2 separate regions of the Homo sapiens genome follow, and region 1 is reported to be linked to region 2. The links are microRNA targets in miRTarBase. Many come from high-throughput screens and were not tested one by one. Region 2 holds a microRNA gene; the other region holds the end of a gene's coding sequence.

Evidence for each region. Region 2 holds the annotated microRNA hsa-miR-520g-5p (UCUAGAGGAAGCACUUUCUGUUU, at 2,360-2,382, shown strand). A microRNA usually pairs through its seed, bases 2 to 8, with sites in the 3' UTR of a target mRNA and lowers its output. Matches are read on the target gene's strand: a 7mer-m8 pairs with bases 2 to 8, a 7mer-A1 pairs with bases 2 to 7 and ends in A, and an 8mer does both.
Region 1: miRTarBase lists ADH5 as a target of hsa-miR-520g-5p. The part of its 3' UTR that is shown has no 7-base or 8-base seed match.

Annotation. Positions count from the first base shown.
Region 1 is chr4:99,068,143-99,073,389 of GRCh38, forward strand. ADH5 (alcohol dehydrogenase 5 (class III), chi polypeptide) reads right to left here. Exons shown (of 9, transcript NM_000671.4): 8 at 4,431-4,569; 9 at 2,836-4,299. The coding sequence ends at 4,275. Among named protein-coding and RNA genes, the nearest start is that of ADH5, 18 kb to the right of the region's middle.
Region 2 is chr19:53,740,169-53,745,669 of GRCh38, forward strand. MIR520H (microRNA 520h) reads left to right here and starts at 2,344; the gene lies at 2,344-2,431. MIR517C (microRNA 517c) reads left to right here and starts at 1,145; the gene lies at 1,145-1,239. LOC124904765 (a long non-coding RNA gene) reads left to right here. Exons shown (of 6, transcript XR_007067334.1): 2 at 1,977-2,099. It also overlaps the pseudogene RNU6-982P.

The DNA of each region.
Region 1 (5,247 bases), not on the chromosome of region 2:
TTTGTGTGAATAAAGAACTTGTGCCTATCAGACATGCCTGTAGACGGACTGTCTCCAGCGAGTATCACTAGGTAGGTTACATAGCAGAATAGCCAAACATGCTAAAAATGGCAATGCAGGAAATACTTGAAGAGAAATTTTTATATTGGGAATATAAAAATTTTGCAATTAAACATAAAGATGCTTAAGTTCCTTACATGGCAAAATTTTAGATCCTTTAAAAAAATTTTACCAGCTTTAATGAAATATACAGTGGAAGTTAATATCCATCTGTATTGCAATTATATACCTCTTGTCCAAAAAAGCAGCTTAAAGATAACTTTCAAAAGTTTCCCAACAATTAATAATTTATTGTATATTTCAAAACAGCTAAAAGAGCAGCTTTGGAATGTTCTTTTAGAAATGATCATTGTTTGAGGTGATGGATATTCCAGTTATTCTGATGTGATCATTATATATTGTATGCACATATCAATATCACATGCTCGGTAAGTACATACAACTATTATGTATCCACTGAAAAAATGTCTAACAAGACTTCTAAAGTGGTTGAATCCCAATTTGGGACAACCAGGGTAGATTTGCTTACATGCACTTAGTGAATGGTTGGTTGGTTTTTTTTTTTTTTGAGACTGAGTCTTGCTTTGTCGGTCAGGCTGTAGTGCAGTGGCGCGATCTCGGCTCACGGCAACCTCTGCCTCCTGGCTTTAAGCCTCCCGAGTAGCTGGGATTACAGGTGTTGTGCGCCACCACACTCAGCTGATTTTTGTTAGTAGAGACAGGGTTTCACCATGTTGGCCAGGCTGGTTTCAAACTCCTGACCTCAAGTGATCCACCTGCCTCGGCCTCCCAAAGTGCTGGGATTACAGGTGTGAGCCACCACGCCTGGCAGTTTTTAGCATATATAACATACATATGTTAAGCAATTCCTCAATTCAAGACGATGTATTAAAATGATCTTAAAAAGAAAGACTTGGCTAGGCGCAGTGGCTCACGCCTGTAATCCCAGCACTTTGGGAGGCTGAGGTGAGTGGATCACCTGAGGTCAGGAGTTCAAGACCAGCCTGGTGAACATGGTGAAACCCCGTCTCTACAAAAAATACAAAAATTAGCCGGGCATGGTGGCATGCGCCTGTAATCCCAGCTACTCGGGAGGCTGAGGCAGGAGAATCGCTCTAACCCGGGAGGTAGAGGTTGCAGTGAGCTGAGATCGTGCCACTTCACTCCAGCCTGGGCAACACAGACTCTGTCTCAAAAAAAAAAAAAGACTTGACAACTATAGCCGAGTCTCATGACCCAGGAATTCTAATAGTAAAGATTTTGTAAAATTGATTATTTTTATTATTTTTGTGACAGGGTTTCACTCTGCCACCCAGGCTGGAGTGCGGTAGTGCAATCACAGCTCAAAGCAGCCTCGACCTCCCGGGCTCAAGCACAGATTTTGTAAAACTGATTCTTTATACTGGATCTCTGAAAGAGATAGTTGTGCTTTCAGCCAGGAAATGCTAATACTAAACTTAATCAGCTGGCTCAAGAGTATGTACTTAACTGTGCCAGAAATGAAAAGCAAATTCAATAATAGGCTAGCTACAAAAATTAGAGTAGTATTTTATTTATTTATTTGACAGGGTCTCACTCTGTTGCCCAGGCTGTGCAGTGCTGCGATTATGACTTACTGCAGTCTCGACCTCCTGGGATCAAGCCATCTTTCTAACTCAGCCTCCTTAGTAGCTAGGACCACAGGCACATGCCACCATGCCCGGCCAATTAAAAAAAAAAAATTTTTTTTTTTTCTAGAGATGACATCTGTGTTGCCCAGGTTGGTCTTGAACTTCGGAGGCCAAGTGATCCTCCCACTTTGGGCTCTCAAAGTGCTGGAATTACAGTTGTGAGCCACCGCACTTGGCCTATTTTAATATTAATCATCTTAAAACTGCTTTACATTTTCATATTGGCGAACCTAAAAAACGTTTGCCATTGCAATTCATGAATATCTCATGTTTGTTTGAGAAGAAAAGTCAAAGGAACAAGACCTTTAGGAGTTACTGGCTCTCCTCCATACTCTCCATAACTGTTTTGTTACTGCAGTTGCCAACATAGGATACTTTTGTTCCTAGAAGGCTGGGCTACACCAAAGATTAAAAGCACATTTCCTACAAGTGGAGTAGAAGCTAGTTTTAATTTCGTCTTCCTTTCAGTCCACTTAAGATAACAGTTGTGGCCCCTTTGGGCCCTCATATCTCCAGCCCTCTAGGTAAAACAGGAGGGAAGCTGGACTACATTGTCAGGCACTTCAAATGCACCAAAGTTCTGAAAAGGGGAAATCCTGACCATTACTACCAGTTTGTTTCCCACTTTTCAATCAATGACATATTGCTCTCTCACACAATTCTGTGGGAGCATTTAAACCATATCAATAAATTGAAAAAGCACATAGCATCAATCCAACCAAAAGATATTTGCATGGTAAACGTGATGCACTGATATAAACTCTATGTTATCATGTGGAGAAAAAAGTTCACAGAGTAGTGTTGATAGTATTCCTTTCGTGTAATTTTAGAGGATATATATGCTATTGTGTGCATAGAAACTCCTAAAAAGATACGTAAGAAACTTAACAGTAATCACCCATTTTTTTGCAGGTGTATAGCTTTTCTTTCTCATTATATAATTTCCTAACAATTTATATTTTCTAACCCTTAGGTATATTGCATTCATTAATTTATTTTTATGTCAAGGATTATCAGGATGGTAAGATCCTGGACCATTTTTGTTTGCTTCTTTATACTTCTCAGGATAAAATAACCTAAATGTTACTTACCACCACCAGGAAGATTTATGTGACTACATTAAAACTTTATTCAACAAAATACCATAAAGTAAAAAGAAAAGTCACAAGATAGACTAGAAGATATTTGCAACATATAAAACTGACAAATGATTGATGTCTAGAATAAAAGAACTCCTAAAAATTATTCAGAGAAAAATAATTCAATACAAAGTTGAGCACAGGATATGAACAGGTTCTTCACAATAAAATGTCCATTAGAATGAAGGATTTAACGAGAATTGAGGAAAATGCAAACTAAAGTCATAATAAAACACCATTCCATACTCATGTAATTCACAAAAACTCACATTTACTTTGAAGAGCAATTTGGCAATGTCTATAAGGCTAAATGTGTTTATTCTGTGATACGTCTTAGGTAACACGCAGTGAGCCCAATGCAGAAGAATGTTCCACTACAGTGTTATAATACAGAAACTGGCAACAACTTCATGCCTTCAACTGGAGAACAGATAAATTATGGTAGTTCCCGTAATTGAATTCTGCTACACAGGACTAAAATTAATGAACGAGAGCTTCAGATATAATTATACAATAATGAGTGAAAAAAGCTGTAGAATGAGCAAGTATGAGGCTTAAAAATATATAAAACAGTACTAAAGAGTAGATGGTTTAGGTTATACACAGTGAAAGTACAACAACACAGGAATGATAAACATCAAATTGTGGATAATTGTTACCTCTGGAGGGGAGGAATGGCAATGTGATCTCGAAGTGGCAAAATGTTAAGATTTGACAAAAGTAGGTGCTGAGAACTTGGATATTCAGTATGTAGTTCACTATACTAGAAATAGTACAGTCACAACCAACACATACATACACCTATTTAAGCCCAGAATGCTGTTTCAATAATACATTTTAGTGCCCCCTGAAGGGCAGATGCCATCCTAGGAATTTGGGGTACAGGTATGAACAAGGCACAGTACCTCCCTTCAAGATAATATCACAGAAGCAGACTTGGGTCCTGATTAACTTTGTCACTGATGGCTAGGATCTGTTCTTTAATCAACGGGGACTGAGACCCTTAAAAGTTCAACGTTATGTTTCTGAGGTTTCAGACACCCACCACTGCCCTGCTTCCTTTCCCTTTCCCTTGCAGAATGAAGATAATGGGCAGACAAACCGTGACAATGATGACAGCATAAAACAAGACAATTTCCACACAAATGTAGAAATTACTTTTATTATGTTAAAATATTCCTTAATAAACTAGCAATTATTTATGTGGAGGAGCATCCAGAAAACAGGTTCATGACTGAATTATCCTTGTCCTTGATTATAGAGATTCATGAATGACACACATAACCCTATTTTCTGGAGTAGCTGTGAAGCTCTACGAGGCTGTGAGGTTGGAGGCGCTTCTCCCTGCCTGTTAAGCTGCTCCTATCACATCACGACAGGATGGACATTATTTTTCTCTTTTGAATTAAATCTTTACAACAGTTCGAATGCTGTAAAAGGAAGCAACATACTAAGTTTTAAATGATACCTTTAAGACAACTAAAATTGTGTTTTTCGACTCTCCATCCCCTCAAACTCAACATCATTATTACATTCTATGATATATAAAGAGAAAGCCTACCTCTTTCCAGAATGCATCAGTTCAAAGGCTTTGTTGATTTCATCAAAAGACAGATTGTGAGTCACAAATTCATCAACTTTTATCTTTTTGGACATATATTCAGACACCAACTTTGGGACACTTTCTACACTCTTCCATCCTAAAAGAAATCACACATTAATTTATTCAACAAATTTCTGCAGTATGCTTGTTACTTAGCTGAGGACAAAAGGCATTTAAAAGAATGAATTTTTTGATGAGTTAAAGAGTAATGAGAAACTCCAAAATAGCATGGAGATGAAGAATTTGACCAACACCTTTCAGTGAAGAAGTAAATACTTTTGAAATTTCCCTTCCTCTGTATTAAGATTTACTAAAACCTCATTAAAGTTTTGGCCAATTGAGACTTTTAAACTACCCAGGACAGAACTCTGGAAGTCTCAACAACAAGCTTATTTAGGTCCACATCAGCAAAGATTTCTATAATCATGATATTCAAGGAAGAAAAAAACTAATACAGGACTTTATTTCCTTGGTTTTAAATTTAACAATGAAATAGGGATAGCATATCAGAACAGAAAACTATGAAACTGAAAAATGAAGTAGAACTCTTTAGCTAAATGCTAAGTTTGTTCGTTTGTTTTTGAGACGGAGTCTCGCTCTATCGCCTAGGCTGGAGTACAGTTGCGTGATCTCAGCTCATTGCAAGCTCTGCCTCCCAGGTTCACGCCATTCTCCTGCCTCAGCCTCCCGGGTAGCTGGGACTACAGGCGCCTGCCACCACGCCCAGCTAATTTTTTGTATTTTTAGTAAAGATGGGGTTTCACCATGTTACCCA
Region 2 (5,501 bases):
ACAGGCGTGAGCCACCGCGCCTGGCCATCAACACCTTTTACCCCACAGAAATTATTCTGGCACTGGTTTATGGAACTTCACTTGGGGTCAGGTAGAGGTGAAGGGGACCCCAATGTCCCTTGCAGATGGGATGTGTACTGCTCAGCAAGAGCATGGAGGTGGAGTGCATGGGGTTTGAGTTTTCATTGGGGAAATGAAGCTGAAATCTTGGGTGCATGACCAGGTCGTATATGCAACGAGACGGGCGTCTCACTATGCCGCCCAAGCTAAAGTGGGCTTAGATCCTCCTGCCTCTGGCCCTCCCCAGTCCTTAGTAGCTGGGACTACATGTGAATATTAACTCATGTACAGGAAGAGGAAAGTAAGGACTGTTCTTTGATTCATGCCCCACCCCCACTTAAATTTCTATTTCAGATAAACAATGTATTTGAGATGTACTTGAACAACAAATGATTTGCTGTTTAGGTGTGGGCATCTTTTTTTGTTCCTAATTTTAAGTATAGGACAAGGCTGGGTACCACGGCTCACACCTGTGATTCCATCATTTTGGGAGGCCAAGACAGGAGGATCACCTGAGGTCAGTTGTTTGAGACCAGCCTGGCCAACATGGTGAATCCCCATCTCTACTAAAAATACAAAACTTAGCCCAGTGTGGTGGTGGTACACGCCTGTAATCCCAGCTACTCAGGAGGCTGAGGCAGGAGAATCACAGGAAGCCGGGAAGCTGAGCTCTCAGTGAGCTGAGATCGCACCACTGAACTCCAGCCTAGGCAACAGTGAGACTCAATCTCAAAAAAATAAAAAATAGGCCGGGTGCGGTGGCACACGCTTGTAATCCCAGCACTTTGGGAGGTCGAGACGGGTGGATCACCTCAGGTCAGAGTTCAAGAGCAGCCCCGCCATCAAGACAAAACCTCCTCTCTACTAAAAATGCAAAATATAGCTAGGCGTGGTGGTACACACCTGTAGTCTCAGCTACGTGGGAGGCGGCAGCAGGAGAATCTCTTGAACCCGTGAGAAGGAGATTGCAGTGAGCTAAAATCACACCATTGCACTGCAGCCTGGGCGACTCCATCTCAAAAAATAAATACATAAATAAATAAATACATAAATACATAAAAAATAACCCAGAGTACTGGAGCAAGAAGATCTCAGGCAGTGACCCTCTAGATGGAAGCACTGTCTGTTGTCTAAGAAAAGATCGTGCATCCTTTTAGAGTGTTACTGTTTGAGAAAATCAACGTTGAAGATGCTGCTGATCTTGGTAACACATTTGCAGAGCGTGCTTATCATCAGACGTGCATGATGTTGGGGTTCTGTTTGTTTTGTTTTTTTTTTCCAAGACAGTGTCTCTGTTGCCCAGACTAGAGTGGGTGGCACCTCCAACCGAGATCTCTTGGGCTCAAGTGGTCCTCTTTTTATTTTTTGATTTTTTGAGACCCACTCTGGTTTCACTGGGAGTGCAGTAGCAGAATCTCTGTTGACCGGAAACTCCACCTCTCAGGTTCCAGTGTTTCTACCACCTCAGCCTGCCGAATCATTGGGAATTCAGTTGCCTGCCATCAGGTCTTGCTAATTATTATTGTTTTTTTGTTTTTTTTTTTTGAGGCGGAGTTTCGCTCTTGTTGCCCAGGCTGGAGGGCAATAGCGCGATCTCGGCTCACCGCAACCTCGGCCTCCCGGGTTCAAGTGATTCTCCTGCCTCAGCCTCCCAGATAGCTGGAATTACAGGTGCCTACCACCCCACCCAGCTAATTTTTGTGTTTTCAGTAGAGATGGGGTTTCACCATGTTGGGCAGGCTGGTCTCAAACTCCTGACCTCAGGTGATCCACCAGCCTTGGCCTCCCAAAGTACTGGGATTACAGCTGTGAGCCATCACCCCTAATCTCAAATGGTCCTGTAGAGTCAGCCTAGACTGTGGTCTATCTTGGAGGATGTTTGTGTGTGAGACAATGTATATTCTTCAACATTGTAGATTCCATTTTGGATGCTTCCATCGGGACTGTGTGCCCCTGTCCTGGAACTCAGCTGAACACTTGGCTCAAAATCCATTGCTGTTCTCTGGAAATTCTGCCCTAATCTCTTGGTTAAATATAAGGTATGTGTAGTAGGCTTTGCTTTTTCTCTTTGGGGACAAAACTCAGGAGGGTTGCCCCTTGGTGAACAAGGCTAACCTGCTGAGCCTTTGAAGCAAGGAACTGGAGATGGTCCTTTTAGGGGTTTATGTTCTGGATTCCAGAAAATATGCAAACAGGGCCAATAAATGCATCTTTATTTTGTGTGTATTTTAACCTGGTCAAGGAAAATTCCAACAAGAAACCCAGAGTGCTGGAGCAAGAAGATCCCATGCTGTGACCCTCTAGAGGAAGCACTTTCTGTTTGTTGTCTGAGAAAAAACAAAGTGCTTCCCTTTAGAGTTACTGTTTGGGAAAAGCAGTGTTGAAGTTGATGCTGATGTTGGTAATATATTTGCATGCTTATCATCAGACTTGGATGATGTTGGGGTTCTGGGTTTTTTTTGTTTTCTAAGACAGGGTCTCTGTGGCCCAGGCTGGAGTACAGAGGCACTTCCAACCTAGGTCTCTTGGGCTCAAATGGTCCTTTTTGGGACAGAGTCTTGCTCTGTGACTCAGGCTGGAGTGCAGTGGTGCAATCTCAGCTCACTGCACCCTCCACCTCCTGGGTTCAAGTGATTCTCCTGCCTCAGCTTCCTGGGATTACAGGCACCTGACATCATGCCCAGCTAATATTTGTATTTTTCTTTTTTATTCATTCATTTATTTATTTTTTAGGTGGAGTCTTGCTGTTGCCAAGTCTGGAGGGCCATGGCACGATCCCGGCTGACTCCAACCTCTGTCTCTCAGGTTCAAGCAATTCTCCTGCCTCAGCCTCCTGAGTAGCTGGAATTACAGGCGCTTACCACCACGCCTGACTGCTTTTCGAATGTGTGCGTATGTGTGTGTATGTGTGTTAGAGAGAAAGAGAGAGAGAGAGATGGAGTTTCACTCTTGTTGCCCAGGCTGGAGGGCAATGACATGATCTCGGCCCATACAACCTCAGCCTCCTGGGTTCAAGTGATTCTCCTGCCTCAGCCTCCTGAGTAGCTAGGATTACAGGCATGTGCCACCACACCTGGCTAATTTTGTATTTTTAGTAGATATGGGGCTTCCCCATGTTGGTCAGGCTGGTCTCGAACTCCTGACCTCAAATGATTCACCTGCCTCAGTCTCCCAAAGTGCTGGGATTACAGGTGTGAGCCAACATGCCCGGCCTGAATTTTTTTTTTTTTTTTTTTTTTTTCAAGTAAAGACGGGGTTTCACCATGTTGACCAGGCTGGTCTCAAACCTCTGAACTCACGTGAGCTGCTCGCCTCGGCCTCCCAAAGGCATGAGCCATGGTGCGTGGCCATCAACACCTCTTACTTTATCGAAATTTTTCTGGCACTGGTATAGAACCTCACGTGGGGTCAGGTGGAGTTGAAGGGACCTCAGTGTCCCTGCAGATGGGATGAGCAAGAGCACGGAGGTGGAGTGCATGGGGCTTCAGTGTTTATTGGGGAAATGAAGCTGAAATCTTGGGTGCGTGACCAGGAAATAAATGCATGAGACGGGGGTCTCACTATGCCACCCTGGCTAAAGTGGGCTTAGATCCTCCTGCCTCTGCCCCCCGCAGTCCTTGCTAGATGGGACTACATGTGAATATTAACCCATGCACAGACAAGAAGAATGTAAGAACCATTATTTGGTTCACACCGGGCCCTCAGTTAAACTTGTATTTTAGACAAACAATGTATCTGAGATGTCCTTGAACAACAAATGATTTGCTGTTCAGGTGTGGGCATCTTTGTTTTTTCCCTAATTTTAATGATGGGACTAGTCTGGGTACGGTGGCTCCCGCCTGTAATTCCAGCACTTTGGGAGGCTGAGATAGGAGGATCACCTGAGGTCAGTTGTTTGAGACCAGCCTCGCCAACATGATGAAACCTCGTCTGAACTAAAAATATAGATATTAGCCAGACGGGGTGGTGGTGCACCCCTGCAATCCCAGCTACTCAGGAGGCTGAGGCAGGAGAATCACTTGAAGCCAGGAGGCTGAGCTTTCAGTGAGCTGAGATTGAGCCACTGCACTCCAGCCTGGGCAACAGAGTGAGACTCAGTCTCAAAAAAGTAAAAAATAGGCTGGGTGTGGGCCGGGCGCGGTGGCTCACGCCTGTAATCCCAGCACTTTGGGAGGCCGAGGTGGGTGGATCACAAGGTCAGGAGACTGAGACCATCCTGGCTAACACGGTGAAACCCTGTCTCTAGTAAAAATACAAAAAAAAAAAAAAAATTAGCCAGACGTGATGGTGTGCGCCTGTACTCCTAGCTACTCAGAAGGCTGAGGCAGGAGAATGGCCTGAGCCCGGGAGGCGGAGCTTGCAGTTAGCTGAGATCGCACCACTGCACTCCAGCCTGGGTGACAGAGCAAGACTCCGTCTCAAAAAAAAAAAAAAAAAAAAAAAGGCGGGGTGTGGTAGTGCACATCTGTAATCCCAGCATTTCGGGAGGCCAAGACAGGAATTACCTGAGGTCAGGAGTTCAAGACCAACAGGGCCAACATGGCAAAACCTCGTCTCTACTAAAAATACAAAAATTATCTGGGTGCAGTGGTACACATCTGTAATTCCGGCTACCCAGAGGCTGAGGCAGGAGAATAGCTTGAACCCAGGAGGAGGAGATTTCAGTGAGCTGAAATCACACCATTGCACTTCAGCCTGGGCCACAGAGCAAGATTGTGTCTCAAAAATAAATAAATAATAAAAATGACATAAAATCAATAAATAAAAATAAATACATAAATACAGGAACATCATTAATTTGGATGTCACCTTTGTGCAGGGGCCAGGGTAATCTCTGTCATTCCAATTTTTTTTATGTGCACTGCCAAAGCAAGCACTCATGTAGGAATTATCCTTCCTGTGAGCATATAATATATGGAACATTCTTTGAGACAGGGTCTCAAAAATATGATGTGTATTTCATCATATATATAATATAATCGTATACACACAAAATACTGTTTAAATACAGAGAATACCCTGATATCACCTTGGGTATTTTTCTTTGTTTCTGTGTGTGTGTGTGTGTGTGTGTGTGTGTGTGTGTGTGTGTTTGTTTGGTTATTTCTGAGACAAGGTCTGGCTCTATCGCCCAGGCTGGAGTGTAGTGGTGTGATCTCAACTCACTGCAACCTCCGCCCCCCACCTAAACCTGCTGAATTAGTGTCTACAGGCATGCACCAGCACACCTGGCTAACTTTTGTATTTTTTGTACATATGGGGTTACACCATGTTGCCGGGGCTGGCCTCTAACTCCTGAGCTCAGGTGATCCTCCCGCCTCAGCCCCTAAAGTGCTGGGATTAGAGGTGTGAGCCACCGCACCCCAGCCATACTTGTGTATTTCTATTCAAATTTTATTGAGGAGTTTTTACCGCCCAGCCTGTGGTCTATCCTGGAGAAT